Linked DNA regions of Homo sapiens. The protein of the gene in region 4 purifies or fractionates together with the protein of the main gene of each other region. This does not show direct contact. Each region holds a gene or a part of one and is shown on either strand. Other genes may lie near its edges.

Region 1 (7,281 bases), about 92 Mb from region 4:
AATCATGGCAGATAGTTGAACTGCAATTATGATAACTCAACAGGATCAATTTTATTTACATGCTGAATAAATGAATGAAACATATTCTCTACATCCATAACTTAAGTACAATCAGTTATAATTACAACACTGCAGCAATCTGAGCTGCCACCTGCTGGGATCGGTCTAAGGGAAACGTTCTGATGTTCCAGAATAATGTTCTTAATACTCTGCAAAAAATGAAACAAAATAAAAACACAACTTCACAATTCCTTACTGGGTTACGGCTGGTTCCAAGAATTTCTTTTCTTCAGCTCCTGTTTTTGCTGCTTTCCAAGAGTCAACACACGTTGGATTTACTTCTGAATTGTCAATGAGGTAATGTGTGCATCAGTGAAATAAACAGAAAATTCATTCATTCATGGCCTTTGCACAGCTTTTATTATTAAGCTATGAGCATCCTGTTTGAGGCTAGTTTTACTAGCGGCTATGTGCACATTTGTCCGCAATAAAAGAAGTTTACTCATTCCCCTGTCCCCTTTTCTAATAGAAGGTTAGCTTTTTTTGTTGTTTTTTTTTATTTTTTTGCACATCCCTTTTCACTTTACAGTACATTTGACTATAGTGCACAACATGATTCCGAGTCAAAACAGTGGCCCATTGGGCACTGAGCTTCTGATTGGTGTAGGGCAGTCCAATCAGTGCTGGTGTCACTGGGTTACCCCAACCATGTCCGGCCAAAATGGCACTACCCAGTGGTAGTGAACCATCTAATTAAAACCAAAACTCCCCCAGGGAAAATGCTACACTATCAGAGTCAGTCTTGAGTCAGATCTTTATTTGGTGCTCCATCCAGATATATTTTTAGTGCTTTCTCTTTACGAGGTGAGTATGTTACACGATGTCCAGTCTTCTGGAGTCGACTGCTTTCTTTTTTCATCAGTTCATTTCTTTGCTCATCTGTCAATTCCATTAATTCTTCTGTTTTATCCCTACATATAAAATATTAATCACATATTAGTCCAGTAGAGCCCTCCACCTCTATTAATGTATGCTTGAATGCTATGATGCTCCTCAGCAAGATAATGAAATCTGTTACTGGTGAAGTAATATTATTTTATATACTGAGATGTCCCAGATTTCTAAGGTGTTAATCACAGGAACATATTGCTTACTTCTAAAAGTGGCGGAGAATAACTTCCATGTTATTAGCAGTAGTAACAGCTATCATTATTGAACATCTATAATAGGCACTGTGCCAGTTATTTTACATGCAACAGCTCTAATTCTCATAAAATCCTGCAAGGTAGACATCATTGTTGCAATTTTATAGATGAGGAGCTAGGTAAATCAGAAAGCTAGTTTTGAACCCAGATTTGTGAGGCTCCAATGACTATTCTTTTTCCTCTACATCTGTGCTGTCCAATACAACAGCCATTAGCCACATGTGGCTATTGAGCTTGTGAAATATGCCTGGTTCAAATTGAGATGTGCTGGAAATATAACAGACATACAATATTTCTAAGACTCAGTACAATAAAAAAATGCAAAATACAAATGATTTTTTATACTGATGACATGTAATGATCATATTTTGGATATATTGGGTTTACAATATTTTTAAAATTAATTTCACCTGTTTCTTTTTATTGTTTTTAATGTGGCTACTAGAAAACTTCAAATTATAATCATGTTTGGCTGTCACTGTATTTCTACCGGTTAGTGCCGCTCCATATCATAAAAACAGTAAAGATATTTATGGAAAATAAGATATGTATGCACGCCAAAAATGTATTACTAACAGCAACAAAAACATTGTGAATGTTACCTATAAAATATGACCGCACCATCATCACAGATATAAAGAGGCCAGACATTCAGGGTAGAAACTTTAGGATTCCAGTCTAAATCCTGATGAATATCAAGGACAGAAATATCACAGGGAAATGTTCCTCTACCCTAAAAAGAAAAAGAATGAATGAATAAATCATGCCACTAGCTGTGTTTATCATGCACAATACACAGATGCAACATTCTCAGGGCTTTACCTTAGCAAATTCAATATCATCCAAAGGAATCCCACTGATTTCACTAAGCTGTAAAATAAAACATTTTATTTGAGTTCATTTAAAAAATTAACTTGCTTAGAAAAGTTATTTTCCTTTTACCCCACAAACAGAAATAGCTCAGTTTAAAAAATGTTTCATGTAAAAAAATTAAGAAAAAGCAGAAAGCGGCCACCCTGCAAATACCATGTCCCAGAAATACCAAGTTAGTATATTCCTTCCAGACCTTTTCCTATGCATACACAAACTACACCCACGTTTCTAAAACATGTAAAATCAGATTAATATCTCTATATAATAATTCTGTTCCTAGAGGAATAGGATACAAAGTGACCACATTCTCTTCAATAACCGAACAATATACATTTTATCTCCTACTGATGGACACTGAGACTGTTTTCAGTTTTTCCAAGTTACAAAGCTCTACTGTATACTTCCATGAATATCCTCGCACATGGTGAAACCCCGTCTCAACTAAAAATACAAAGAATTAGCCGGGCGTGGTGGCATGTGCTTGTAGTCCCAGCTACTCGGGAGGCTGAACCAGGAGAATCACTTGAACCCGGGAGGCGGAGGCTGCAGTGAGCCAAGATCGCACCACTGCATTCCAGCCAGGGCAATAAGAGTGAAACTCCGTCTCAAAAATAAATACATAAATAAATAAATTCTTTTTTCTTGAGACAGAGTCTCACTCCATCACCTAGACTGGAGTGCAGTGGTGCAATCTTGGTTCACTGCAACCTCCACCTCCTGGGTTCAAGCAGTTCTCCAGCTTCAGCCTCCTGAGTAGCTAAAATTACAGGCATGCACCACCACACTTGGCTAATTTTTGTATTTTTAGTAGACACAGGGTTTCACCATGTTGGCCAGGCTGGTCTCGAACTCCTGAACTCAAGTGATCTGCCCACCTCAACCTCCCAAAGTGCTGGGATTACAGGAGTGAGCCATGGCACCCAACCTGCAAATACTTCTACAGATCGAATTCCCAGATGTTTAATTGCAAATCCGAAATACTGACAAATGATGCCAACTGAACTTGAAAAAAATCATATCAATTTATACACTTATCAAAGGTATATATTGTCTGTATCCCCTAAACCTTGAGAACTCTAGGTATTTTTTGATTTTCTAAATCTTCACCAATTTAAGAGTGAAAAATAACGTTATTCTTTAATTTGTATTTCTTTTTCTATAAATTGCCTATTCATGCTGTCTTTCTTAAAATTAGATTTGTTCCGTCTTTTTCTTATTAAGGTAGTAGCTCCTTATAAATTATGGACAGCATGTTTAATAACTGCTTCAAATAATTTCCTCCTAGTTTATTGTCTTTTAGCTTTGTTTATGAGTTGCTTTTTAAATACCTTTTTCTTTGGCTATGCAGAGGATAGGTTTTTACGTGGTCTATAGTTTCTTTTTTTGGCTTCTGGTATTATGCTTACAAATATCTTTTTCCAGGAATATGAAAATATTTTTAGTATTTAATATTTTACATATTTTCACCTAGTACATTTACTTTTTTTATATATAAACTTAATACATTTAGAATTTATTTTTGTGTTTAGTATGAAGTATGGAAATAAATCTTTTTCAAAATGCTCATTGTGCTAGTACCACAGATTGACTAATTCACCCTTTCCCCAGAGATCCTTAGATATCCCATCTTAAAATGCAAAACAGACCTTCATCTGGATTCTCTACACAATTCGACTTCATTTGGTTTTTTTTAGACATAAAGCAATTCACTCTAGTAACTTCTAACTAATTCTAACTACTTAGGACAAAATTGGTCCAAGTAACAGAAAGTGAGGATCCACTTCTGAATGGCCAGGAGCCAAAGTAATTTTTCAAAGAATCAGGAGCCTGAACAACCAGAGTGTGCCACAAGGTGTGACAGAAACCAAAAAGAAAGGTTGCTGCACCAGTGTTTGGTACTACTTCCTAGGTTTTCTCTTACGCAACACAGGAAGAATGTATTGTTTATATATTATATATTTTATTAATATTATGATATACATATACAACATAAGATACATGTTTTGTTTAAAATGAACTTACCTTCTCTCGCAATTCGTCCACACTACTGCTTTCCAATACAACCTCCTGGAAGGGATCCAACTTCATCTCTGAAGGCTTCCACCGTCTTGACAAAACTGCAAGCTGTGACATGGACTTCATCTTCTCTACCCCTAAGAATATGCAAGATTAGGTCATCATTCTATTTCCTCTGAAGGTTCATAATTTGACTTTTCCCTTAGTGCCTTACTAAACAAAAAGATTTACTTCAAGTGTTACTCTTAAAAAGTGGGCACAAGAAAAAACCCAATTATCCCAAGGAGTTTTTGAGAATGAAATATTTACTCTCTTCTCTCCAGTCTCAGAAGATAATTCCTCTCTTCTTCAAACCAGTACTCCTAATTCCACTCCCTCCTGACTCCTGTTGAACACTGCATTACCAATTACTCTCTTCTCTGGATTTCCAATCTTTGTTTCTCTATTGGCTCCTATCCCTATCTAAAATCATAAACAAATCAACTTCACTTTATCCTCTTTTTTCACTAAAGCTATTATTAATCCTTCTCTTTCCATTTACTCCCCAATTTAGTGATTCTTCAAAATTGTCACTTTTCCATTATGTCACTTTTCAAGCATCAACTCAATTGTCACTTTTCAAGCATCAACTCAATTGTCACTTTTCTCTGGTGTACACAAGAAGAACTTCTACTGATTCAGTCCCTTAGTACCTATTATTTTAGAATGACAGGTTTGCAGTTCTGTTTCTTCCACAGACTGTGTGCACCAATAAGTGGTTCTTACTCATTTTTGTAGCACAAGGGATTAGCAGTGTCTGGCAAATTACAGGTCAATAAATACCTCTTGGATTTAATCACATGACATTTCTTACTCAACTATCTTGATGTGAAAATATACTGAAATAATACTGATGCAGGCACCCACCATCTAGTACCATTTTCAGATGAATCCATCTCTGCTAATACATACTCAATCCTTACAAGGGTGACTTCTTTGTCATTTATGATCTCTTCCTGACTTACCCAGGCACAGTGATTATTCCCTACGACCCCAGATACTCAAAGAAATCACAATCTGGAGCACTTGCCTACACACCATAGTAGATGGTATCCTAGTTGTTCCTTACCTCCCAACTTAACTTGTCAATTAATCAGAATTTCAACCATTTAAATTTATGGTTGAATTAGACCTGAAGCAGCCTGAAATACATGAGGTGTTAGTATTATTGAGCTCTCTAAAAACTAGGATAATCTTGTAACAAAATATCCAGAATTCATATTTTACTTTCTACAGAAGAAAAGGAAAATTAAAATTTTCCTAAGCAACAGCAAAAAAAGAATATAGAACTAGTTGTTTACCTTGATGTGATCTTCTAAAAGCCAACTTTCCTCCTATAAGCCTCCCTCCAAACACCAATACTTTAAATGTGCCAATGTTGATAACGAAAACTGGGAGGTGTGACAAGTATGTCTGCTACTTGGACCTCCTCAAGGTCACTGCTATGGGTTGAATTGTGCCCCCCACAAAAAGACATTTTGAAATCCTAATCCCTAGTACCTCAGAATGTGACCTTATTTGGAAATAGGGTCTTTCCAGTGATACTCAAAGTAAAATAAGGTCTTCAGGGTGGGCCCTAATACAATAGGACTAGTGGTTTATGAAAAAGGGGAAAACAATACAGACAGACAAGCCCACAGAAAGAACACCACATGAAGATGAAGGCAGAGACTGGGGTGATGTATCTACAAGCCAAGGTTGCCAATGATGGCCAAAAACCACAGAAGCTAGGAGAGAGTATGGAACAGATTCTCCCCCACAGCACTCAGAAGGAACCAACCCTGTTGACAGCCTGATCTCAGATTGTGAGACAATACACTTCTATTCTTTAAGCCACCTGGCTTAGGACACAAATAGTCATTGTTCTTGAGTCTCTGATAAATTATCAGTACCATGTCTTCAATACAAAATAAGCCATAATAGTAAAAAAGAAACTAAAGAACAAACGTGGCTAAGAAAATATTAGCAGAGTTTTCTTAAAATGTATTAAAAACCTAACTTTGTAATTTCCTCATAAGGGGGAATTAATATTCTCAACATTCAAAAAAAGAATACTTAAAAGGCAAATGGGAACCAGAGAAAGATAGCAGAAGGCTGAAAGACACTGATTATTCTTTCAAAAACAACTTAAGCAGTTACATTAGGACACAGGGGAAGAAAATAAAACTCCCAAGGATAAGACGTAGGTAGGAATCACATCAATCCATAATAAGGATATCGTTATGCTTAATATAACACAAAACACTATAATGTATATTAGATTCCTCGTAACTCATTATTTGATTAAAAACTATAGGCTTCTATTAGTTCTAGAGTATTTCTAACTGATACTTCCCCCCAAAAATATTGAAAATACCATCAAGAACTTCAAGGAAAACCTCCCAGTTGCTGGAAATATTAATATCTTCTTCATAAATATGATAATCCAAAAAGACAGTGCCAGGATTCTTCCATGTTTTTTTCCTTAGACGAAACCTACAAATGTGATAAGACATTTAAAACGACTATAATTTGAAACTCTCAATTTAAAGATTGACACTAATCTGACACCAAAGAAAAATGAACTATGTTCAAATACAAAAGTCAAATAATGAGTTGTTAAAATCTGGGGAAATAAAGAAATGTTTCCAGTAATTCAAATTTAGAATTCTGTATAGGAAATCCAAACAAAATTTTAATACTCTTGTTTAGTCCTATTAAACTAATCTGTCATACTAAAATTCTGAATAGCACAGGAAATTTTAATTCTCCTAGTTTTAGAAAATCATACCAGTCCATTTCAACTGACCACATAGTCTTTCTTCAAATCGCTGATGACATTAATTTTACTTTACCTGTCAATACTGAGCTCTAAACCACATTGCTCCCTGAGCTGAGGAATTAATTCCTCTTTTGATTGCCGTACAGTCATTCCTTTAGCAAACACAGCATCTAGCAGAAACTTGCATGGCTAGAAATATAAACATAAACAATCAGAGCTTGAATTATACCTTAAGTACATTAATATTAACACATTAAAATAAAAATTACCAAAACATTTTATTTGCAATTAAGGGCCTGAGTTTCAGAGTCTATCTTCCTTTTTTGAAACCTTAGCTCCACTATTTATGAGCTCAGCTATCTTGGGCAAGTTTACTTAAAATCTCTG
Region 2 (8,024 bases), on a different chromosome or scaffold from region 4:
GAAAGGAAATAAGCTGCTGGCAATGAATCCATTCCTGAACTTAATTCCACCATTAGTCATTAAGGGTTGAGGTGTTATCAGTGAGATGCTAGCAAACCCAAACTCTAGCAAATTCCAGTGTTTAGGCCATTATTTTTCCCTCACAGTTCTTGACATCTGCAAATGGAATTATGGTTGTTCTGTTCTTTTAAGAATCTGGGTAGCACCACGTTTCACTTGCATTGTAACTCCCCCACAATATCCCATCCAATGTAATAAGGATTCATGGCAATCCATGCAGCAGCCTGTGATGCACAAAGTAGCCCAAGATTTAAACCCTCCTGCTCGCCCTATTAAAATGTCAAATCCTAAGCACACAAATAAAAACATACCACTCTACGATAAGATATTCAATTATTCTCCAATTTCCTGTTATAATTAATGAATCATGATACACAGAGCACTGGGTAGAATTCCAAACACCAAATTATGTGGTCAAAAGTTTCTAAATTGACAACTGAGCCAGCAAACCATACCTTGCCATCAGCACAGACACACAGTCACAGTGTGGAGAGTTCATCTGTTTTTAGCTGGATGGGTAGTGGGATTTCTCATGGCTTCTGCTTTTCAAAGCATTTACTCTCATTCTAAAACAGTATGCTACACACAAAACCATCCATTTTATTCCAGGATACATCTTAATGAGAATAAAAAGCTTCTGTATGCACATACTGCCAATACATTTAAAAAGGCCTAAATTTTAACAAGTAGGATAGACAAATTCATCAGACAAAAGATCATAAATTACTTTGGCCGAAAAAAATCTTTAAAAAAAATCTGGCTCAACATTCTGCTTGCAGGTTTCTATATATACTGTATATGTGGTGAGTGTGTATGTGTGCGTGTATATAGAGAGAGCTTTCTTTTGTTTAAAGGGAATGGAGAACGGTCTAGCCCACTTTCCCACAGTCATGTAGGAACTACGATGTTTTTTGCGAGCAAAACAAGAAGTGCAAGGTCTGCATTCCCACCAACTCGATGCAAAGCTCCAAGAGCTTCCTGCAAAGTAAAGCCAGCACGGAGAATGCGGTCAATATCTGTGGCAGGAAAAATCAATGGTGGAAGAATGGCAGGACTTGATGATGGATGGCTGGTAGGTGGTTCATATTCAAGTAATGGCCTCGAAGCATCAGGACAGACATTTTCTCTGGTTTCAGGCCTGTCTGTTACTGAATTCTGTATGCCCTGACCTAAGTCTTTAACCAATATGAAATTGGATGACAAAGACTTAGTTTGCTCAGAAGTCTGATTGAGTGCATCCTCCTCACCTGCTAAAAGTTTGGGTGAAATTTCTACACCTAAGGTGCAGTGTAACTGATTGGATGTTTTAGCTGAGGTTACAGTGACAGAACGGTTCTTATTTATGGATTCCCTAGATTTGGGGACACCTTCCTTATCGGTTGACAGGCCATCACCTAGACTCCTGAAGTTTACATTTTCTACAGCTTCTCTTCCAGTGTCAGATGAAGTACCTGTTAATTTTTCTGTCTCCACTGATACAGATATGGCCTGATGAAAGGAGACTTGTGGACACTGTTCATTCTGGGTAAGATGCTCATTTTGGGTCCATCTTTCAGAAAGGTCTTTAATACTGGTTTGGCCCTCAGCTATGGTTTCTGATTGACAGATTACTTCTTCAGATGTATTTTCTGAAGCTGGTTTACTGCTAACAACCAAAAGTTCATGAAGTTCTTTCAAGGCTGCCGTTATAGACGGGCAAGATTCTTCTGCTGACTCCACAGAAGGCTGACAACTGCCACAGAGACTTGGAGAGGAGTAATGGCCATATTCTTTATTTGTTCCAGGTATTTCAACATTAGTTTCTGGGGGCTGTAAATCCTGAGTGGAAATGGAATCATTCAAAATTTCAGATGAAGGGTTACATTTTGATGTTTCTACTTCCATCAAGGGATTATCTAAAGTGAGATCCAATGCACCAATGTTCTTGACATTGGCATTCTGCCTGCCTGTTGAATTAAGCAAAGTAACTAGGGACTGTTGAGCTGTATCGATTTCCATAAATGTTTCTGAATTTGAGCAGCCACTGCATTCTGAAGATGGAATACTTTTCTTCGCACTTGGAGGATCCACATTCTGTGGGAGCCCATTTCCTTTCATCGTAGCTTCCAAATCAACAATTTTGTGTTGATTCTGTTGCCTTTCTTCAGGAAGCTCAAGGTCCCCTATGTTACAAAGATATTCTTGGTCATGTGAAGCTTTTTGTTGTGCAACCTCATACTGTTCATTCCCTGGTTCTTCGTGCTGCTGAGGGTCACTCACTTGACTCAGGTTCTGATTTTCTGGATGCCAATCCTTTTCACCTAGAAACATCTGTGGTTCATGCATCCTAGTAGATGTGACAGATAAACTAGCTTCCTGTCTTGTATGGAGATGAAATTTGAGGCCCTGGGTGCTTCTTTCAGCAGATTTCTCCAGATTACCTGCAACAGTTATTTCTTCGGATGAATTCTGCATAGGCATAGCTGGACTCTGGTCTGTTGGAGCATGGTCTGCTGAGGAAGCATGATCAGAAAGATCTTGTAAAGAAAGATGTTCTTTCTTTTCAGAGTTTAGCTGGAATTCAGCTGAAGCCTTCAAAGCCTTCACAGCTTTAGGTTCAATGCGATCTGAGTCACTGGGCTTGATAGGGCAGACTGAAGCAGAGACAGAGCGAGCAAGACTCATAGGATTACCAACATCAGGACTCTGTCCTGAAGAACGGGCGGGATGGTTAAACCCATCTGAAGTTGGTAATGATGACATTCCCAGTGAGGTAGATTCTTTACCACTTTTCTCTATATGGAACACAGGGGAAAGGAAAAAGATTAATTAGCAGGTGACTAATGCCACTAAATTACCAGAGGATACAAATCTAAACAGCGTAGAATAAAATAAGGTCCTCAAACTCGGGTTTCTCTTACACAAATAGAAATGATTTTAAAATTACTTTCTCATTGTGGTAGACATTCACAGCATCAGAATAAGAGGTAGACATGTTCTTAATAAAATCTGCATACTGTAATTCAATGTGATTAAGTATCCATTAATATGCATTCACATAATGGCGGGGTTAGTGCTCAGGAATGAAGGACATTTATGTTTCTTTATTCCCTAGTCTAGTCTACAACTCTAGAATAGTTTCTCCAAGTGTACTTTTTTCACCACTTGCCCTAAAACCACCAGGGACGCTTGTGAAGTATGCAGACCCTGGGGTACCATACTTGAGAGTAAATCCAGGAATGTGCATTTTCAATAAGCTCCTTGGGTGATTCTTAAGGATATTACAAATCCTGAGAATCTTTGCACCAGAATGATTCTCATGTTAATGCACTTTTCTTGTTTCAAATGTGAACACTGAGGTTACAAATGAGAAGTCTTAAACCAGGTATACCTGGACAGAGAGGGAATTATAAAGAGAAATAAGAAATAACATAATGCTTGGGGACAGAGAAGCAAATGTTCTATTTTATTTCTAGCCAAGCTTTCCAAAAATCATGGTAAAACTGGGTGAGCATCTGACTCAGAAAACAAAAGTAAACTAATGATCAGCAGATTAAATCACAATCATCATCCTACCAAATAATACAACTCTAAACTTAAAAGGCTTATAAGTTTTTATCACATCAATAGTGTGCAACTAAGTTAAGAATATTTAAATGTTTTAAAGAAAGGGGAATGTGGAGGGAGATGGTTCATTAATAGTTTTTCAACTGGCAATGACTATTTAGATTCACTGCTACCTTAGACCACCCAAACAAGACGGCTCAGTGTAAGCATCATAGTATCATTAAACATCATTTCCAGCTCTTCTTTTGCCACCAATCCAGTTAAAAATTGACCTCTACGCATGTAAGTGTAAGAATTTTTTTTTTTTTTTAAGACTGTGTTTTGCTCTTGTTGCCCAGACAGGAGTACAATGGCGCCATCTGAGCTCACCGCAACCTCCGCCTCCCGGGTCCAAGCGATTCTCCTGCCTCAGAGTAGCTGGGATTACATGCATGCGCCACACACCCGACTAATTTTGCATTTTTAGTAGAGATGAGGTTTCTCCACGTTGGTCAGGGTGGTCTCAAACTCTTGACCTCAGGTGATCCGCCCGCCTCAGCCTCCCAAAGTGCTTGGATTACAGGCAAGAGCCACCGCACCCGACCATTGTAAGATCTTTAATTAAAAATCAAAAAGGGCTGGGCACAGTGGCTCATGCCTGTAATCCCAGCACTTTGGGAGGCCGAGGCAGGTGGATCACCTGAGGTCAGGAGTTCGAGACCAGCCTGGCCAACGTGGTGAAACCTCATCTCTACTAAAAATACAAAAATTAGCCAGGCGTGGTGGTGGGTGCCTGTAATCCCAGCTACTAGGTAGGCTGAGGTGGGAGAATTGCTTGAACCCAGGAGGGAGAGGTTGCAGTGAGCCAAGACTGCACCACTGCACTCCAGCCTGGGTGACAGAGTGAAACTCAGTCAAAATAAAAAATAATAATAATAAAAAATAAAAATCAAAAGGTCAGTAACAAAAATGACTTCAAAATACAATCTATTATTAGGACAGATGCAACTCAAATGCTCAGTACTAAATGTTAACATCCAACAAGAGGGCTTGATCTTAAAAAGCAGCAAAGCAGTTATATTCAAAAGGCTTTAAATCATTCTAATAAACTACTGGTTAACAGCATGAGAAGACAAAGCATTGTTTCAGGAAGCTATTGACTTCCCATGAAACAATCTTACCTTACTTACACTTTAGGAGTAAAAAGGAAAACTGCACTTATCTCAGTTTAGGCTATACCCATTAGAGTCTAGAAACACAGTTATTAGTTTTTTTATTTTCATACCACCAGATGTCTAACAGTTATTAGTTTTATTTAAAACTAAGGCTGACTCTGGAAGAGGTTGAATTTTGAACTAATGTTAACAGAAACAATGCACTGTAGTGAAATATCCATGTAAGCAACATAAAGAGGTATGGTAAGGGCCTTCTGGTATTTGTGTGTTAGTTATAAACAAGTGAGGTCAAGGTGAACACACCCTCAATGAATTTTGTACTAAAAAAGTAGCATATAGTCCTCTTGTAGCTGAGAAGGTCAGTTTCACTAGCCTAAGTCCTAAACGTAGGGGAGGACTAGGTCAGTTTACAGAATGACAGGAGAAGAGGATGAGGACAGTGGATATTAAGAATAATTCAACTATGCCTGCTTTTAACCTATCCTTACAAGGAAAAGAAAAAGGAAAGAAAGAAGAGAAACTAAATGCTATGTATCTAATTCCAACCAGCTTGCAAACTCCTACAAAGTCTTATGATGCTGGTTTAAAAGACCATCTTTCCTCCTCTTAGTAAGTCAGCCAATGTATTCGAGCTGATGTTTACCATTATTTACATCAGAGGAAATGGAAGCAGAGTGCTTCCTGAAAATCTGTCAGGCCAGAGACAGAAGGAAAAGCAAAGTCTTAGTTCCTGTTGTTCAGAGTCACCCCTGACAAGTCCTCTGGCCTAAGTTTCCATTTCTTCTTCAACAAAATTAAAATTTCTAACCCTCTATAACTCCAGGTAGTTGTATGCAGTAATGTAAAAGAACAGCTTTCAGTTTTTCAGAGGAAAGGCACTTATGAAACCCATGAAAGCATAGTTATCTCCAACAACAAAGTGTTGTGAGGCCAATATTCTTGATGTGATATTTATAGTAGCCAAGATGGGGTAGATATAATAGACACTGTTTTAACTGGGATTTTCTCCCTGTTGGATGGTTCTAATAACGAATCCATTTTTAAACAGGAGTTTATGTTACATATCCATGTATGCATGCCAAAATACAAATGCATATAGGCTAGTTGTAACCAGATTGAACAAGGTGAAATGGTGAATGACAAATGCTAACTTCCCAAACTGCTGCGGATACAGACTGTCAGATCACAGATGACAACTGGATGGAAGGCTTAACATGGTGTCTATAAATACCTGGTCTGGGGCCCACTCCAGCTGCAGTACACACACACTACATGCATCATGGCTTCTGACGCTCTGTGTGAATTAGGAAACAGACAAGCAAACTTGGGTTAACAATGCAAACCACACAGCATGCAGGGTTATAGTTTCCGTTCTTTTGCCATCTTTAAAATCAGGAACTGGTAGATTCCAAGTTGAGGGATGTTTCTGTAGTTTGGACATCCAAAATATTTGTTGGTTGCTTCCATTCTCTCACAATACACACAGCAATCTGTTAATTTCAACAGATTTTTAATAGATCTTGTAAAGAAATTAATTTTGTTTCTACACATAGAGAATTCACGGGCAAATGTGAGACAGGTGAAGAAAGTAGATCCACCTGATCGAATTAGGTGATTAAAAAAATCTTATGGAGTAAAGGTGAGTGAACATATCTAACAGTCCCTTTCCAAATTTCTTTCTCAGCTGAGATTCAATTTTAGAGGAAAACAAACCACTTAATTAAATTCTATCCTAGCTTATCTTTTCATCAGTTTTTAAATAATACATCAAGCTGAACACAGTGACTCTGGCCTGCAGTCCCAACACTTTGGGAGGTCCAGGAGGGAGAATCCCTTGAGGTCAGGAGTTCAAAATCAGCTGGGGCAACATAGTGAGACACCATCCCTACTATCAAAAACATGTTTTTTTTTTAAAACATTTTAATATAGAGTTTATAATAGAGTATAAAGTATTTAAAAAATAAGCTCTTTTTTTTGTTGTTTTTTTGAGACAGTGTCTCACTGTTGCCTAAGTTGGAGTGCAGTGGTGCAACCACAACTCACTGTAGCCTTGATCTCCCCAGGATCAAGTGATCTTTCCACCTCATCCTCCCAAGTAGCTGGACCACAGGTGCATGCCACCATGCCTGGCTAATTTTTTTTCTTTTTTTTTTTTTTTGAGAAGGAGTCTCACTCTGTTGCCCAGGCTGGAGTGCAGTGGTGCAATCTTGGCTCACTGCAACCTCTGCTTCCCGGCTTCAAGCAATTCTCCTGCCTCAGCCTCCCGAGTAGCTGGGATTACAGGCGCCCACAACCATGCCTGGCTAATTTTTGTATTTTTAGTAGAGATGAGGTTTCACCATGTTGGCCAGGCTGGTCTCAAATTTCTGACCTCAGGTGATCCACCCTTCCTCAGCCTCCCAAAGTGTTGGGATTACAGGCGTGAGTCACTGCGCCCAGCCGTGGTTTTTTTTTTTAGAAACAAGTGTTTTGCCATGCTGCCCAGGCTGGTCTCAAATCCATAGGTTCAAGTGATCTCCCCACCTCAGCCTCCCAAAGTGTTGGGACCACAGGCATGAGCCACCATGCTTGGCCAGAAAGAAGTTGTTAACAAAATACTTTCACCTACTATGTCCAGAGTATTTATTCGGATGATATTAGGAAGTCGATGTTCTAAATAAAAAGGACCTGATATGTAGAATTATTTCATTACTTAAACATTACAAAAATTAGCACAAGCTATACTACCAGCAACAAAAGGTTATTTAGGTAAAAAGCCATTTCTTTTTAATTCTTTGAAGTTGGTACATCCCCTTCACTAAGCCTGGAAACATATGTGTATCTGTTTTAATCTTCCAAACTTTTACTAAAATAAGGTAATTACCAAAAAAGGATAACTGTTATTAGTAGGTTAGAAAACACTGCTATTATCAGCTAATGTTTCTTAAATAATGGCACCAAGACTGTGGAGGTTAAAAGGAAAAAAAAAAAAAAGACATTTCATAAAATGATAATATATCCTCATATTAACACACAGCATCACGACTAAGATGATAAATTACACCCCAAATGCAAAACCTTGTAAGGAGCTATGTCAAATTCATTCAAGCTTACCTTGCAGGTAAGATTAAAACTATTAAGTTAGTCTCTGTCTGGTTGTTCAAAATTCCTCCCTTCCTACAAAATACTTAAGTTACAACCAAAACTGTAGTTAATATAAAAACTTGAGCCAAAAAGTGATGGGAGTCAATTCTGTTGTTTTTTTTTTTTTTTTGGACACAGGAT
Region 3 (7,449 bases), about 95 Mb from region 4:
CTGCGAGGTCGAGGCTGCAGTAAGATGTGACTGCAGCTGCATTCCAGCCTGGGCAATAGAGTGAGAACCCGTCTCTTAAAAAAAAAATCAAATATAATATTACTCACTCATATCTCTGGTTTTAGTTCTTAATCTAATACAGAATGAACAATACAAGATAAAAGGATAAAAGCAAAAGGGGCAGACAAAAATATAATTTCCACAGAAGACTTTGTATCAGCCAACTCCAGATACACAGGAATAGGCAAAGGCACTTTCCTGGGGCCAAGAGAACATGACCCCCTTTGATTTCCTATGGTTGCCTTCTGCCAGTCCTAAAAGAGCTGGCAGGCTGGTATCAAGCAGTGAACATTACAGAAACAGCATAGTAAGAGGTAGATAATTCAGAAATCCCAGCGGTATATTCAAATATAGGTTGCTGGTATGAGGAAAAACAACCTACAATCTTCACAAACCCAAAAGTCAATAACAACTAATTTCTCCTCTCTCTTCCTTATCTCCCTCTGATGCTATCCTCTCCCTTTTCTTGGACTCCTTCTATCGAGATTATACTATAAACTACTCCAAGTAAGAACTATTCAATTAATTTTAACATCCTCCAAATTTCCCTTGCAGTGAGAGAAAATTGAGTCAACACTGGTCTATCCCACATGTATTTATAAAGTAAAAGAATAATAATGTACTTCTAAGGTCACTTCTAAGATTGTACTAAGGCTGCAACAACAGTTCCAAGAGAGTTTAAGCATGCTGCCTCACCCCAGCGCTTGCGGCTCTCCTAGCCCTACCTCGGTCTGCCTTGGTTTCTGTAACCTGGCTGTTCTGTGCAATCACTTGTACATTATAGGTGTGAAAACAGTGAGAGAGGGAAATCAACTCCATGACGGTGGGGCACAGAAAGCGTGAACCATGATTCAGAGCCTTACAGTCAACTGTCATGTGTATGTGTCATACTCAAGGCAATATCCTGCTTCTTGAGGCTCCTTCCTCTTTGCAGCCTGCTGCCTGTGCTGTATGCTATCAGCCCTTTGTGACTCAACTGAGACAGACTAGAGTCAGAAAAGCGGATGGAATTCTTACACAGCATGAAGTAGTATAAGAAATCCTAGGCAGAAGGAAGTTCAGGTAGCTCTCAGGGCTAGGAAACTCCTCGACAACGAGGGACAACCAAATCCAGCATTTAAAAACTCTGTATTTTAATTCTTCTCTTAATATAATACTTCCTTCTTTATTGATTGCTGAGCATTCTAGGAACTAGGATAGGATTATTTGGCCTGAAGGAAAGAATACTTCTCGAACCTGATTTGTTAAATGAATCGAGATTGCTTTAAAGTGAAAGAAGGGAAAAGAGAGTTATCTCTTTTGCAGGAGCACATTTCAATCACTTATCACTCTGGGTTAGCATAAATCAGATAAACTATCCTGTGGGTTGTGCAAAAAGCAAAACAAAACAAAAAAACACAACTTGTAAAAAAAACAGAGCAAGATAACTGAAGTAGACAAACTCTGCACAGAAGTAACTAATGGCAGGGAGGAGAAAAATTTTTGTATATTATATTATACTGTGTATAATATAATGTACCTGTGTATCATTAGAGCTGTTAAATTAAAAAAAAAAAAAAAAAAAAAAGGAAATGGATGCAGAAGCTCTGCCCTCCTGGGGCCAGAAATGGCAATTTCAGTGAACTAGGGCCGACAACCACATCCAAAATTAAATATTTCAAAAGCTTAAAATAAAAAATACTAGAAAAATTATGCAGAGCACCTATTTCATTTGTTAAAAGACATTTAATTAGTGTTTCACATATTACCACCCAAATGAATAAAGCGATTGTGAAATTCAAGAAAACAATCAAACTACAAGAAAACTCCAGATAAAACTACAAAGTTAAACATAAACTTGGCCCAGGACCACTACAGTGGCTGAGGGATGACAAATACAGTTCTTTATATTGGTAACCCTTAGCCATCCATCCCATTCTATAGAAAGAGGACAGTACCATCTTTGACCCCAGGCCCCCTGTCCTGAGGTGCTTCTACTTAATGCCAGGAACAACTGTGCTAGAAAAAAAGACTGCACCCACCCCAGCTCCAGATGCACACATTAGCTGGTCGGTGAGATGCAGCAGCCTGGCTTCCTCCCTCTACCCACTCCTTGGGGGCGGGGCTGGAAGAGGAGAATGATGAAGAGATGTTGGGGGTTCAGGAAACCTTCACATTTGGCCCCTTTTCTCTCTCCCCACTCAGGATGGAAGGTCAAAGTTAGGACCAAAACTAGAGAAGTGGGTTTTGCATAGGGGGACAATGGATTCAACAGAAGTCCTCTGGATCTGGCAACTGTCAAAAAACCCTCTTTCCACTTCTTTCCCCCTCACGGAAAGCCATTAGGAATCACCTCTGTCTGGGTCATAGGAACAGCCACACAGCATAGGAGGCACAAGCCCCGTGAACAAAATTCGGTATTAAGAATAAGGAAAAAGAAAGAAGACCCGAGGGCAAGAGGGCAGGGCAGGACCTCTTCTTTCTACTGGAGAAGAGACATCCAGGGAGGAGGCACAGCCGAGGGGAGCGCAAGCTAGAAAAGCTACGACGGAATCCCCACCGAAACCGCAGCAGGGGTACTGGAAGGGGAGGAATCCGCGACGCAGCGACCGCGAGCCAAGGGCAGCGGCGGGCCGGGCCGTGACTCAGTGAAAGCCGCAACGGCCGGGCCTCGGAAAACGGCGGGCGCGAAGCCGCCGGGGCCGGGGCGAGAACGGCGGCGGGGGCTCACCATGTCCTTGGACGAGCCCAGCTTCTTGAGGCCGTCCAGGGGCAGCAGGTCGGCGGAGTCCTTGTGGATGAACTGCACCGCCTGCTTCATCCGGCGCTGCTGTCGCAGTGACGCCGCCTCCCGCATGTCGGTCTCCTTGCGGCCGCCCTCAGTGAGGAGCCCTGAGTAAAACATCGCTGAGGCGCCGGCGGCCCGGTAGCCCACAGCCCCCCGGCAGCCTCAGCCTCGAGCTCCTCCAGCGCCGCAAGGGCCCCGAGCCGCGCCTTTTATAGCCGAGCGTGACGTCGCGGGGAGCAGCCAGTGCGCGCGCGGGGGGCGGGGCCGGCACAGAGTCCACGCCCCGCGCGGCTCCCTCGCGTCCCGCGTCCCGCGTCCCGCGTCCCCTGCTCACCCGGTGGCAAAGCCGGCGAGGAGGCGGCGGCGCTGGTGGGGACTGACCCGGCAGTCCGAGAATCCACCGCGGCCTTTTCACCCAACCGCCCCCTCCTGCGTGGGGGCCCCGCATCCCCTGGACTGGCGTGGGCTCTGGGGCCCGATGCCCTGGCAGCCCCGGCCATCTCTGCCGCTGGCCGCGGGTACCTGCTCACCTGTCCACGCCGTGGCCGACCCGGGGATCACCGACAGCCGGGCCATGCCTCGAGTCCCGCCGCCCGCGCCGCTGCTCGGCTTCTCAGAAACGCACCTCCACGCCGCCAGCCGGGGCTCCAGGGTCCACCGCCCGGGCCCGGAGGACTGGCGACTCCCTCCGAGGTTGGGAGCGCTCCGGATTTCTCCAACTTCAGGTCGGTCCCCACCCACCGGGCCACGTGACTGGGGAGGGGGCAGCCGGTGCAGGCGTGTGGAGGAGGCTTTCGGGACCTCCTCCCCCGGGCACCCTCTGCCTGCAGCCCGGCACCCGGCCCGCGTTTCCGAGCCGGGGGAGCAGGTGCAGTCGGAAGCCCGCGGGTGGGCGTGGGGCGGGGGAGTGGCGAGGGTCCCCCGCCTCCGCGGGAGCGCACGCGGCTGCGAGCCCTACACCTGCTCTCCGACCAAAGAAGCACCTGTTTTTCTCAATAAGTGCTAGGGCTTACCATCTAAAGGATCGTTCACCATCCCTCCAGCGTCCTTAGTAGGAGCGATTGGAACCCGTTTTTCTTCCTGAATAATCCATACTTTTAAGCCATTCTAATCGGGCCTTCAGGCATCCTGGATTCTGGTCTCGACATTGTGATTTGACACAAATCACGTTTTCACTCTGGAAACCACAACTACTCCCTCCACCCCATCACGCAGGAGCAGACCTGGATAAGAAATATGTGCACTCTGCAAAGAACCAATGATAAAAGTAACAATATCGACGCTTACTGAGCCTTTACTATGTGCCAGGTACTAGACTAGACACTTAAAATGCAGTATCTCATTGGATCCTGGCAACAGCTTGTAAGATAGTATTCTCATCACCCCCATTTTACAGGCAAATACCTGATACCTTCTGTCTGGCCTCCTGAATGCTCCTTGGTTCCATTCCAATACGTTGTTCACTGTGCTGCCAGAGTAATCTTCTCAAACGATAAGTGTGATCATCTCACTTCCCTGCTAAGAGCACCTCAAAAGGCTTCCTATTGCTCTTAGGAGAAACCCACATTCTTGCATGGTCTGCCTAGACCCTGCATATTCACTCTGTACTTCAGCCTCATGGGCCTTCTTCCAGTTCCTTCCAGTCACCTGTTGCCAAATGGCCTGCCTTTGACTGTCCTGTTCCCTCTGTGTGCAGTGCCCCCTCCTACCCTCTTCAGGAAACTCCTATGCTTCTTCCAGACCTCAGCTCCATTATCATTTCTTTAGGAAAGCCTTCTCTGACCTTCCAGAGAGAGTGAAGTCTCTCTAATTATATACTATCTATCTCTTGGGCATTTGACACTTTCTGTGGGGGTAGGGGTAGGGGGGTACTGGTTGTTGGATTAATATTTGTCTCCTCCACTGATTGGAACCTCCAGGAAGGTGACTGAACCCATTTTTTGCTTAGCATTGATGCCCTAATATGCAGAGGGTTCTCAAATACTAGTGAAAGGATGGCAAAAAGTTAAGGTCGTACCAAAGAAATCAAGTGGTAAAGCTGGCATTTACTCCCAGAACCTGTGCTGGACTACCTAGACCTGGAGAGACTGGGTTTGGCCTCATGAAGCTGCTTCTTTTACTCTGTTCTGCCTTCAACACTTGCCCCAGTTTCAAAGACTGTTTGTGGGAAAACAAATACAGAAGGCTGCTCACTTGGCTTCAAGGAAGCCCCAGGGCTGGATTCCTCCCTGTGTGCCCATCCCCTACTTTCCCCTACACACGGAGGACAGAGTCTCTAGGAGACAGGTGGGATTGCTGTTCACCTTCCAGTCCCCTGGCACACTTCCAGCAGTGAACAACAGTGGCTGCCCTGGCCCCTTCTGTCCCATCACCTGGATCCCTGCCTGATCACTCCTCCAGGTGCAGATCACCCAGGGAACAGTGAAAGTCAGCTTTGCCTTGTCCGTCTAGGAGAGGTGCCTCTGAGTTTGGCAAAGCATCAGGGCAGGTCCAACAGTGAGGGCCCCTAGGGCTTGGGCTGGGACAGTGACTTTCCTCAGGGAGGAAGCCAGGCAGGTAGACACTCTCGGGGGGAGTTGGAATCCCCACTCTCCAGGCTGCTCAGCTCAGACCTGCAGCCTTTTTTGCTGAGGATGTCCTGACAGAAGAAAGGGGCTCTTTTCAGAGCTAGATCCCCCTGGGAACACCAGGAAGCTGAATCTCTCTAGTTGAACTGGAATTTGCCCATATCAAGTGTTGCTGAAAAATAAATGGTGCCCGACTGGAACTGGGAATCTTTTTGTGAATTCAGAGCCCTTTGGTGTAGTGGGATTTGTGTTCTGCAGTTGGGTCTGTGGCTGCAATACCTGTTGGTCCCCTCACCTGTCTGAGACCTTCCTTGGACAGACTGATACCATCACTGCCCTCAAGGTTCAGTGTGGTGAGGCCAGCTCCTTCCTCCCCCCACACATTATGAGTATTCGCAGACTACAGACTGCCTGCTTAATTTAAGGAGAGTTATCTCTGGGTGGTTTATCCTGTTTGCCCAAATGACTTTGAGTAAATCACTTCCTACCTCTGAGCCTCAGTTTCCATATCTGTAAAATGGATGTAGTGAGACTGCATATACAATTGTGCTTTGTAAACTCTCTAGGGCTGTACCAACAGAAAAGATTATTATTAATTCTCCATATAGCCAATCAACGTCCCCTGCCTCATTGACCCATCTTGGAGGAAGTAACATACAATATGGTTGTTAAAAACACAGGTTTTGGAGTCTAATACACTAGATTTGAATCCCTGCTCTGCTGCTTACTAGCTATGTGACTAGTTAGTTACTGCACCATTGTGAGCTTTCAGTTCTTCATCTAGAAAATTGTGCCAATATCTCTACTTCTCAGGGCTGCTGTGAGAAATAAAACGATAGACAGTGTAATACATTGGTCATGTAGCATAGGCTCAGCAGAAGGTAGCAACCATCATTACCTGGAACAACTTCAGGAAAAACTGTAGGTTGCAGAACCCTCGAATTGGGGCTGGCCTATCCTTTCTCCAGGCTTCCCTACAGAGCTTCAGACATGAAGCCAGACTTGAGTATCTTACCCTATCCCTAGAGCAGAGGCCTGCTGAGGCAGGGGCTGGCCAGCTCTCTTCCTCTCCTCAGTGTCTCCAGATTCTGGACTTTCCATGTGCAATGGCTCTATCCTAAAGTTCTCTGCATCCTCCCTTGGCTGTTATAGAAGACCTGTACTTGAAAATCATACTAGAAAATCCAGTACTGTTTCAGTGTTAGAATGCTATTCACGTTATTCTTCTTATAAGTGACAGATACCCAGTTGAAAATTTCTTATGTGAAAATGCAAATTTTTGGTCCCCTTAATTTAAAAGTGCAGGGCTTCAGGCATGGCTGGATCCAAAGACTCAAATGACATTATCACTGTGTTTCAGCTCTGCTTTCCTCTGAGCTGATGCCCCTGTAGGCAGACCCTTCCTGTCTGATGGCTATTTGTGACTCTAGGCTTACAACCTATTCTCCTAGCAACCCTCTTTTGGGTCTTCAGCTAACAGAGAGGCCTTTAAGAATGAGAAACAGGATGAGTGCTGAGGCTTGGAGGCCTAAAAAGTAGAGGAGAAGAGCAGAGGATAAAGGGGAGACTGCCAAGAAATTTTCCTCCCCATTCCCTCCCTACCCATGCATATTGCCCTTGGCCATACCCTGAAGTCAGAATGGCCACTCCTAGGACCCTCATCATGCACCACCCCATCCTTATAGCTGTAGGATCCCTTTCCTCCTCAGATGTCCTCACCACTACCCCAACCCCCTTTGGCAGGAAGATTCTTCGAACAGCTATCCAGATGTGTGCCAGGATCTCTGGCTACATGGTACCCCTGACTTGGCACCCAGCTCTAAAAACTGTGTCTGCTTTGGCAGTTAAAGCAAAGATAAGAGATATTTCTGTCCTCTTCCTTCAGAGTGATTGCCAACATCACCATGACCTCAAGAAACAGGGCTGATGGCAGCCCTGCTGGTGTTTTCCAAAGTTGCCTGGGTCTTTTGGATCCATTACAGTCACCAGTGATTTGGTTTCATTTCCCGGGATGAGAACAGGCTTTGACCTCAACTCAGACAGCAAAAGAGGAGA
Region 4 (7,180 bases):
AATTGAATTCAGAAGATGCTGAGGACTTTGCATATTTTTGTCAGTGAGATAATCCATGAATTTATCAGGGCAATTTAAATTTATTCATAAGCATTTTGCTTATCCCTGACTTTACTCTGAATGTCTTTTTTTGTTAATTGCATTTGTTTTGAGTTCTTAATTACAAACAAAAGTAGGAAAGAAATCTGTTCATTTGATCATTTTTAGTAGTTCTACTGGGTATAAAACTTTGTGCAAATGTAGACCAGACTGGGAAATGTGAGCATGGGAACACCTATAGAGAAGAAAAATGGGAGGTGAACTGATGGTGGCTAGAAAGGAAGAGGTGACTCTCTTTAGAAAGGTTGATTAGTATTACCAAGAAGCAAAACAAAAAGTATATGGAGATTATAAGGGAGAGTTATTTTTTTCTGTATCCTTTGGGAATGCTTTATGTGGCTTTATATCTTGTCGGGAAAATAGAATAACTTAAAGGATATCCCAGATCCTTTAAGATAATGAGGTTTTAGTGCTTGAAAAGTGACCCCTCCCAGGAAAAAAAAAATTATTAGGTGAGGAATCTCAGTTGTAAAGTAGGTGAACTAATTTGTCTAAGTAATTAAGTGTAATCAAAACATACACATCTTGATTTTGAATCCGCTGTTTTAATACTAGTTTTGATAAATTATTGTCCTGAAACATTTCCCCTGCATCTGATGGCCTCAGGAAGCTGAAACTTTTCTCTCAGGTGCTTTAGCCATGGGTTGTAATTAAGTCTAGGATCTTCCATTACCCACTGTCAGTTGTAATAAACACTAACATTGTCAGAATGGATAATTCTGAATGAGGCCTTAGAGATCTTCTCATTCAAAAGTTTTCAAATGTTATTTTAACAGTGAAAACCTTTGTTCAAACAATACTGATGTAGCAGCAGCTTAATGTATAAAGCAGATTTTTACTTTGAAAAAGAGAGAGAGATGATCTAGTTGCAATGACTATTAGAGAACCTGGACCACTGCCTGTCCCCACCTCTCATTCCCACCACTGTACAACTTGACTCCCAAGAAGTACCATAATTTCTTTTTTAAAAAATCTAATTTATTGCCTTTGTTTTATAGCCAGAGTTTCTTTGAATGCAGGAGAAATAGAAAATTAATGTAGCATCCTTGGAGATAAATCCACTTTCTCAAATATGGCAAAAATAGTCTTTAGCTGTGGATTGCAGGGTGACTGCAGGGGATCCAGGGGAAGGGAAGGTGTAAATATGAGGAAATTGGTCTTTATGCTGCCCCAAACAGACATGTATAAGTATTAGTTAACATCATAGTGTAACTGACCTACCATTTCTAATACCCTTCCCAAAGAAAACAAAACCTGTGAAAATGGGCATATTTCTCTCAGTAGAAAGAATTATTAGTGCTGATGTGAAATAGTTTTATGTGGATGCCTTGTAAGGTCTGCAGCCATAGCATTTTTCCAGGGAATTCTGCAAAATAGCAATGATTTGGATAAGCCACCTGTAATCTGATAGGATAGTGTCTCTAAAGGAAGAAGCTGGTTTTCTTTTTCATGGATTATCTGGAAATCAGCTGGAGCCTCCAGAGCCTTCCCAGGATGCCTTTCAGTGATCTCTGGACAAGGGAAATGGAAGAGGGACCAAGACCAAGGAATCAGGATTGACGTTAGTTACCCATCTGAGAACGTAGTCCCAAGGCCAGGTTTAGTTGTTACTGATGTTTTTTAATGATTACATTGCCAGTAAGCTCTTAACTTATAATTGCCGGGGACCTGAGGCTCCCTCAAGGTGGTAACATATTTATAACGTGCTTTAATGCTCTTTTCGTCCTGAATCCATGACTGAATGTGTAATTTCCTTGTCCGAAGACTCATCTTGCCCACTTACCATCCTAGAGCATAAGGGCAACTCTCCCTCAGGAAGAAAATAAGTCTGCGTGCCAGTGGTGCCGATGACCAGCACATTTTTCTTCAAATCGATGGAACATTGATGTCTCCGGAGCATATCTAGGCCTAGAAGCATATCCATGGGTTGATCCTCAAGTATGGAGAAAGAGCACTGTAAGAAATCACCTTCAATTTGAATCTGAGCTAGATGAACACGGCCAATAATTCTCTGTGTGCCCACTCCTTTAGCAACCCCAGCCCACCGTCGGTCCACCAGCCTCATGATGTTACATCGCTCGGCACAAGCCTGGCTCATAATGGTCATCTGGGCGCCCGAGTCAACAAAAGCCTTCAAAGGATGCCCATTCACTTTGCAGTTAATGTAGAGCATCGTCACTTGTCCAAAACTCTCGGGGGCCTCTTCTATCGCTATATTCATGTTTTCTTCAATGTTTTGCTGCCGGATTTCCTCTTCTATTTTGGCCTGAGCTTCCCGATCCAGTGGGTCGGCTGTGTAGAGACGAAGCCTCTCTTGCTCTCTCAAGGCCTTTTCCCTTTGCTGCTCCATCAGCACCTGAGAAAAGGTCTCAAGGCTTCCGCTGAGCAGGGCTTCCGCCAAGGGAGGGTTGCGTTCCTTGAGCAGGGACAGATCGTGGGGGTTGGAGAGCAGCATGCTGCGGATCAGGGCGGGGCTGCCCAGACCTTGCAGGCCGGCCACCTTCTCTCCTGACGCCAAGCCCTGTGACCGCTGGGCAGCGGGTGTGCGCTGCTGCTGCTGTCCAGGGTGCTGTGGACGGGAGCTGGACGTCCCAGGCACCGCAATGCCACTGAAGTCTACACGAGGCTGGTTCGGGGCACGCCCTGGAGCCCGAGGTCCCACATTGTCCTTCTGCAGTAAAACCACGATATCGCCATCTTTGAGGCCGTAGGAGCCCAGGGAACAGTGGTCCTCGATGAGGAGTCGCTCCATGTGGATGATCTGGATCTCTTCGACGGGGACTCTGGACTCCGCTTCGCAGAGGACCTTGAAGTTTCGGAGCTCAAAGTCGGGGCTGACCTGGAGAGAGAAGGTGACCTCGGAGAGGTCCCTCCGCACGCAGTACACGGTGATCAGCATGGCGGGGGCCCGGGCGGGCCGGGCTAGCAGAGGGCATGGGCGGCTCACTGGCGGGCTGGGGCGGGCCTGCGTCGTTGGTGCCGCTGCTCCTCAGGACTTGGTAGGTAGGGACCGTCCGGGCTCATTCACCTCTCAGAGAGGCGCGGACACTCATCTGTCTGGGGGCTGTCTCCCAGCCTCAGTGCCTGCTGTGTGGCCAGGTGGAGCCTTGAGGTAGCACGTTGTGTTCCAAAGTCCATTTCTAAGTGTGCTGTTTGGAACCTAGAATGCCTACTCCCATGGATACACGATGGCTCAAAGCTGTCAGGTTTCAAGGCCAGCCCTTCAAAGCCTATTTAACACATGATATGAAAGAAATGATTTCAACACATTTTTTTTTGAGACAGGATCTTATCCTGTCACCCAGGCTGGAGTACAGTGGCATAATCACAGCTCACTGTAGCCTCGACCTCGTAGGCTCAAGCAGTCCTCCTCTCTCAGCCTCCTGAAAAGCTGGAACTACAGGCACAGTCTACCATGCCCGGCTAATTGTTGTATTTTTTTTTAATAGATTTGGGGTCTCACTGTGTTGTCCGGGCTGGCCTCCAACTCCTGGGCTCAAGCAATCCCCCACACTTCGGCCTCCCAAAGTGCTGGAATTACAGGTGTGAGCCACCATGCCTAGTTTTTCAACACTTTCTAAACAGCATATTATCATTTGTTTTGTTCATTTTAGAGTTGTATTCTTTGTACTTTTGTTTTTTCCCCAAACAGTAAGGATTTGTTTCTTACATGGCAAGTACCATTCTATGTGCATAGTAGGAAAGTCAGATTTGGAGCCTGCCCTTGAGGAGCTCACATTTCTGGAAAGGGATAGACAGGTGAATGGGTAATCACAATACTAAAGGCAAAATCTTTTACAAAGACATGTTCAGGGTACTGCCTTTAGTATCACCAACAGAACAGAGGATATTTTCCTAAGGAGGAGACAAGCTGGATGTTGAAGGATGAGCATCTTCCAGGTGCAAAGTGGTCTCACTCCAAAGGAAAGCAGTTTCATGTTACAAAAGCAGGAATTTATGGCAAGGGCTGTTATTTCTAGAGAAAGATGAGACATTTTGTGCAATAAAAAAATTGTACATGACTTTGAATACCAGGATATGAAGCTGGAAAAAAATTAGTTGAGCCAATTGATGAAGTCATATGTGAATCTACGGAGTTTAAATATTAAATATTATCAATTAGCAAGAATTCCTCCTCCAAAAAAAAAAAAAAAAAAAAAGAAAAAGAAGTAAGGAAGGAAAGGAAAGGGAAAAGATTTGAAGCAGGTGTTTGTGATTTTTTTTTTTAAATTGACTTAAGGAAGAGGCTTCTTGCAACACATGGAGGACATAATGTGGCAGGAGGGCCAGTCAGGAGGCTTTTCCAGTGGTTCAAAGAGGGAGCTGTTGCTAGAGTGTGGAAAGTCAGGAGGCCCAAAGCCAAAGCAGTAGAGAATAAACATGTTTCTTGAGTAAAATGGACAGAGTGTGCATACCCCTTGGAGGTGGGGAGTGTAAAAAAGTGGAATGTGTGGATAACACAGAGGGTCTCTAAAATGGGATATAGGGTAGATGGGCCATTGCCTTGAAGGGGAATGAATGAATGAGTGAGATGAACCTTTGAGGTGACCCATTTGACATCAGTTCTGTAGGAAAATTCATTAAGGATGCCACCCTAGAGGCCAATATGCCTCTCTCTGACATTTGGGCACAGCCACCTTCTCCCTACTCTCCCCCACCCCCACTTACACACACACACATACAAGGCTGTCATGGTGAAAAGTCCTTCAAGGCAAATGATGATTGGGTAGAAATCCTTGCATGCCAGTTATTTTTCTCTATGTTTAATAAAGTGTTTTGCTGCCTGGCGCGGTGGCTCATGCCTGTAATCCCAGCAGTTTGGGAGGCCAGGGTGGGCGGATCAAGAGGTCAGGAGATCGAGACCATCCTGGCTAACATGGTGAAACCCTGTCTCTACTAAAAATACAAAAAATTAGCCAGGCGTTGTGGTGGGCGCCTGTAGTCCCAGCTACTCGGGAGGCTGAGGCAGGAGAATGGCATGAACCTTGGAGGTGGAGCTTGCAGTAAGCCGAGATTGCGCCAGTGCACTCCAGCCTGGGTGACAGAGCGAGACTCCATCTCAAAAAAAAAAAAAAAGTGTTTTGCACTGTGCAGAGCTCATGTTTCCCTGGCTTGGTACTCCCAGGTGTACCTACTTATGAACCAAGATAGTCGATATCCTCTGCCTAGTTTCACCCCCTTCTTTGAAGGGTTGTTAGAAGGCCTGCACTGTTACACCATTATTCCATTATGGAGAGAAGGAAGTCACATCAGCCTAAATAATTATTTTTTGGCTCCTGTTTCTCATGTATTTGTCTCAGATGGAAGACTATGTCTCGCTCACTGCTCTAATTATCATAATGTTTCTATACTCATATTTGCTTATATTAGAAATGTTGACTGAACGCCCAGTGTATGTGAAGCATGTGCTAAGTTCTAGGGAAACAGACGTGAATAATGTTAAATATAGGCTGTATTCTTAAAGGAGCTCACAGTCTAAATTAGAGCACATGCACACACACAAATTGAAGGGTAAAAAATACCACAGTAGTGGTATTCAGGAGAAATTAATAATATCTGAAGAAGAGATGAAGAAGATGGTGAGGGATGTTGGGGAGAGAAGACATCCTGAAAGAACTGGGTTTAGAAAGATGACAAGGAGTCAGCCATGCAGGGTGCGCCAGAGTGGAGACACAAAGGTGAGAAGGAAGATGACCTGACTTAGAGCTTTCAACTGGAAAGACAGTGTTTCATCATATAAGGATTATTTTTTAATTTTAAGAAAAAAAATCTAGCATTGTAATTTTCACCATTTTTACAGATGAATGAATGACCCTTTGACTCAATAATATTATGTTATGGTTCTTTGCACCCTGACAAGTTTATCAGAGATTACTAGTGCTTTCCCCTGAGTTTGGAAACAATTATCATGTGAGATGTCACATGCAAACTACTCTGCTAAAGAACAGATTGAGAAACCAGTAAGACTTTAATTCAGTTTTCCTTTATCTTTTTTCCCCAAATAGCTTTGTACAATTTGTTCTTAAAACCATAGCGAGGAGGATTATACTGGGGCTTTTGTTTTTTTTAATAGCAAATGAAATTATTTTTGTAGAATAAGCTTCCTTTTGTTTTTCATAAAGCAAAAATTGTGAGTTCACATGAAAAGAAACTAACATCTTTTTTTCTATACCATTGCCTTCATACTGAACATATTTAAATTCTATGTGATGTGTTTTATTATCTCACTGTAATTTTTTTACTTTGGGTGGCACTTTACATTTATTTGTTTTTCAGCATTTTACCTTTTACTGAGAACAGACACTGGAAAGCAAAAAGCCTCAAGGTCTGGCCAATGAGCTGTCATCATTTCATTGGTCACAGGATGTCAGGGTTGGCAGGGATCCCTTGGATTCCATAGTCCAGCCACCCATCCACCCCTTATATCTGTTGCAAAACAGCCTGGAATCTGTAAAGGTAAACACAGCCTCCTGTGTTTAGTACTTCTGTGTATACATCATTTGATTCTTTCATTTTACCCAGCATGATTTGTGATTCAAATACCATATGTATAATTGTCCCAACTCAGAATTTTAAATGAAAACCTCTTCTGACTGTATAATGAACTTGGAGGTAATTGGAAATATATATATATATAAAATATATTACACACACACACACACACACACACACCCCTAAACATAAACTGTTGTTATACCGTAAATCCCTATCATGTAGTCTGTTGAGAAATGGGTTATCTGAATTATTGAGGTATGTAAATCTAAGTAACTGAGGTTATCAAAACTTTTCTTGAGGAATTCTTTGTGAAGTATACTCCCTTACTTTTCTCCCTTAGTAAGTACAATATAAGAATATAATTAAATTTTTTTTGATAAGTGAGATTCCTGCAGAGTCTCCAGGCTATCACTCAGAAATCAATTCTAATTGTATGGCCTAAATGCCCAGAAAACAGAAGAGATGGTACTGATTTCATACTAACCAAGTAAATAACCCCAAAGTTATTTTTTTAATAAATCCACAATACCTTTTGTAATTTGCCTCTTTCTAAAAATGTAGCAAAAAAAAAAAAGAAAAAAATCCA

What was found.
Region 1: the proteins of DDI1 (region 4) and USP47 purify together in Homo sapiens (affinity purification with mass spectrometry; 3 studies listed by BioGRID and IntAct, with this or other methods). This does not show direct contact.
Region 2: the proteins of DDI1 (region 4) and RSC1A1 purify together in Homo sapiens (affinity purification with mass spectrometry; 3 studies listed by BioGRID and IntAct, with this or other methods). This does not show direct contact.
Region 3: the proteins of DDI1 (region 4) and NRIP3 purify together in Homo sapiens (affinity purification with mass spectrometry; 4 studies listed by BioGRID and IntAct, with this or other methods). This does not show direct contact.

What each region holds. Positions count from the first base shown.
Region 1 is NC_000011.10:11,949,691-11,956,971, reverse strand, and holds part of USP47 (ubiquitin carboxyl-terminal hydrolase 47), read right to left. Parts: intron 7,084-7,281; coding exon 6,968-7,083; intron 6,609-6,967; coding exon 6,490-6,608; intron 4,232-6,489; coding exon 4,101-4,231; intron 2,076-4,100; coding exon 2,028-2,075; intron 1,939-2,027; coding exon 1,808-1,938; intron 972-1,807; coding exon 797-971; 3' UTR 1-796. UniProt on the Homo sapiens protein: Ubiquitin-specific protease that specifically deubiquitinates monoubiquitinated DNA polymerase beta (POLB), stabilizing POLB thereby playing a role in base-excision repair (BER). Acts as a regulator of cell growth and genome integrity.
Region 2 is NC_000001.11:15,654,647-15,662,670, reverse strand, and holds RSC1A1 (regulatory solute carrier protein family 1 member 1), read right to left. Parts: upstream 2,959-8,024; 5' UTR 2,803-2,958; coding exon 949-2,802; 3' UTR 638-948; downstream 1-637. Other genes in the region: DDI2 (protein DDI1 homolog 2), read right to left, coding at 6,038-6,054. UniProt on the Homo sapiens protein: Mediates transcriptional and post-transcriptional regulation of SLC5A1. Inhibits a dynamin and PKC-dependent exocytotic pathway of SLC5A1. Also involved in transcriptional regulation of SLC22A2.
Region 3 is NC_000011.10:9,000,992-9,008,440, forward strand, and holds the start of NRIP3 (nuclear receptor-interacting protein 3), read right to left. Parts: upstream 3,011-7,449; 5' UTR 2,945-3,010; coding exon 2,771-2,944; intron 1,605-2,770; exon of another isoform or gene 924-1,604; intron 1-923.
Region 4 is NC_000011.10:104,032,641-104,039,820, reverse strand, and holds DDI1 (protein DDI1 homolog 1), read right to left. Parts: upstream 3,182-7,180; 5' UTR 2,999-3,181; coding exon 1,808-2,998; 3' UTR 625-1,807; downstream 1-624. UniProt on the Homo sapiens protein: Probable aspartic protease. Seems to act as a proteasomal shuttle which links the proteasome and replication fork proteins like RTF2. Required, with DDI2, for cellular survival following replication stress.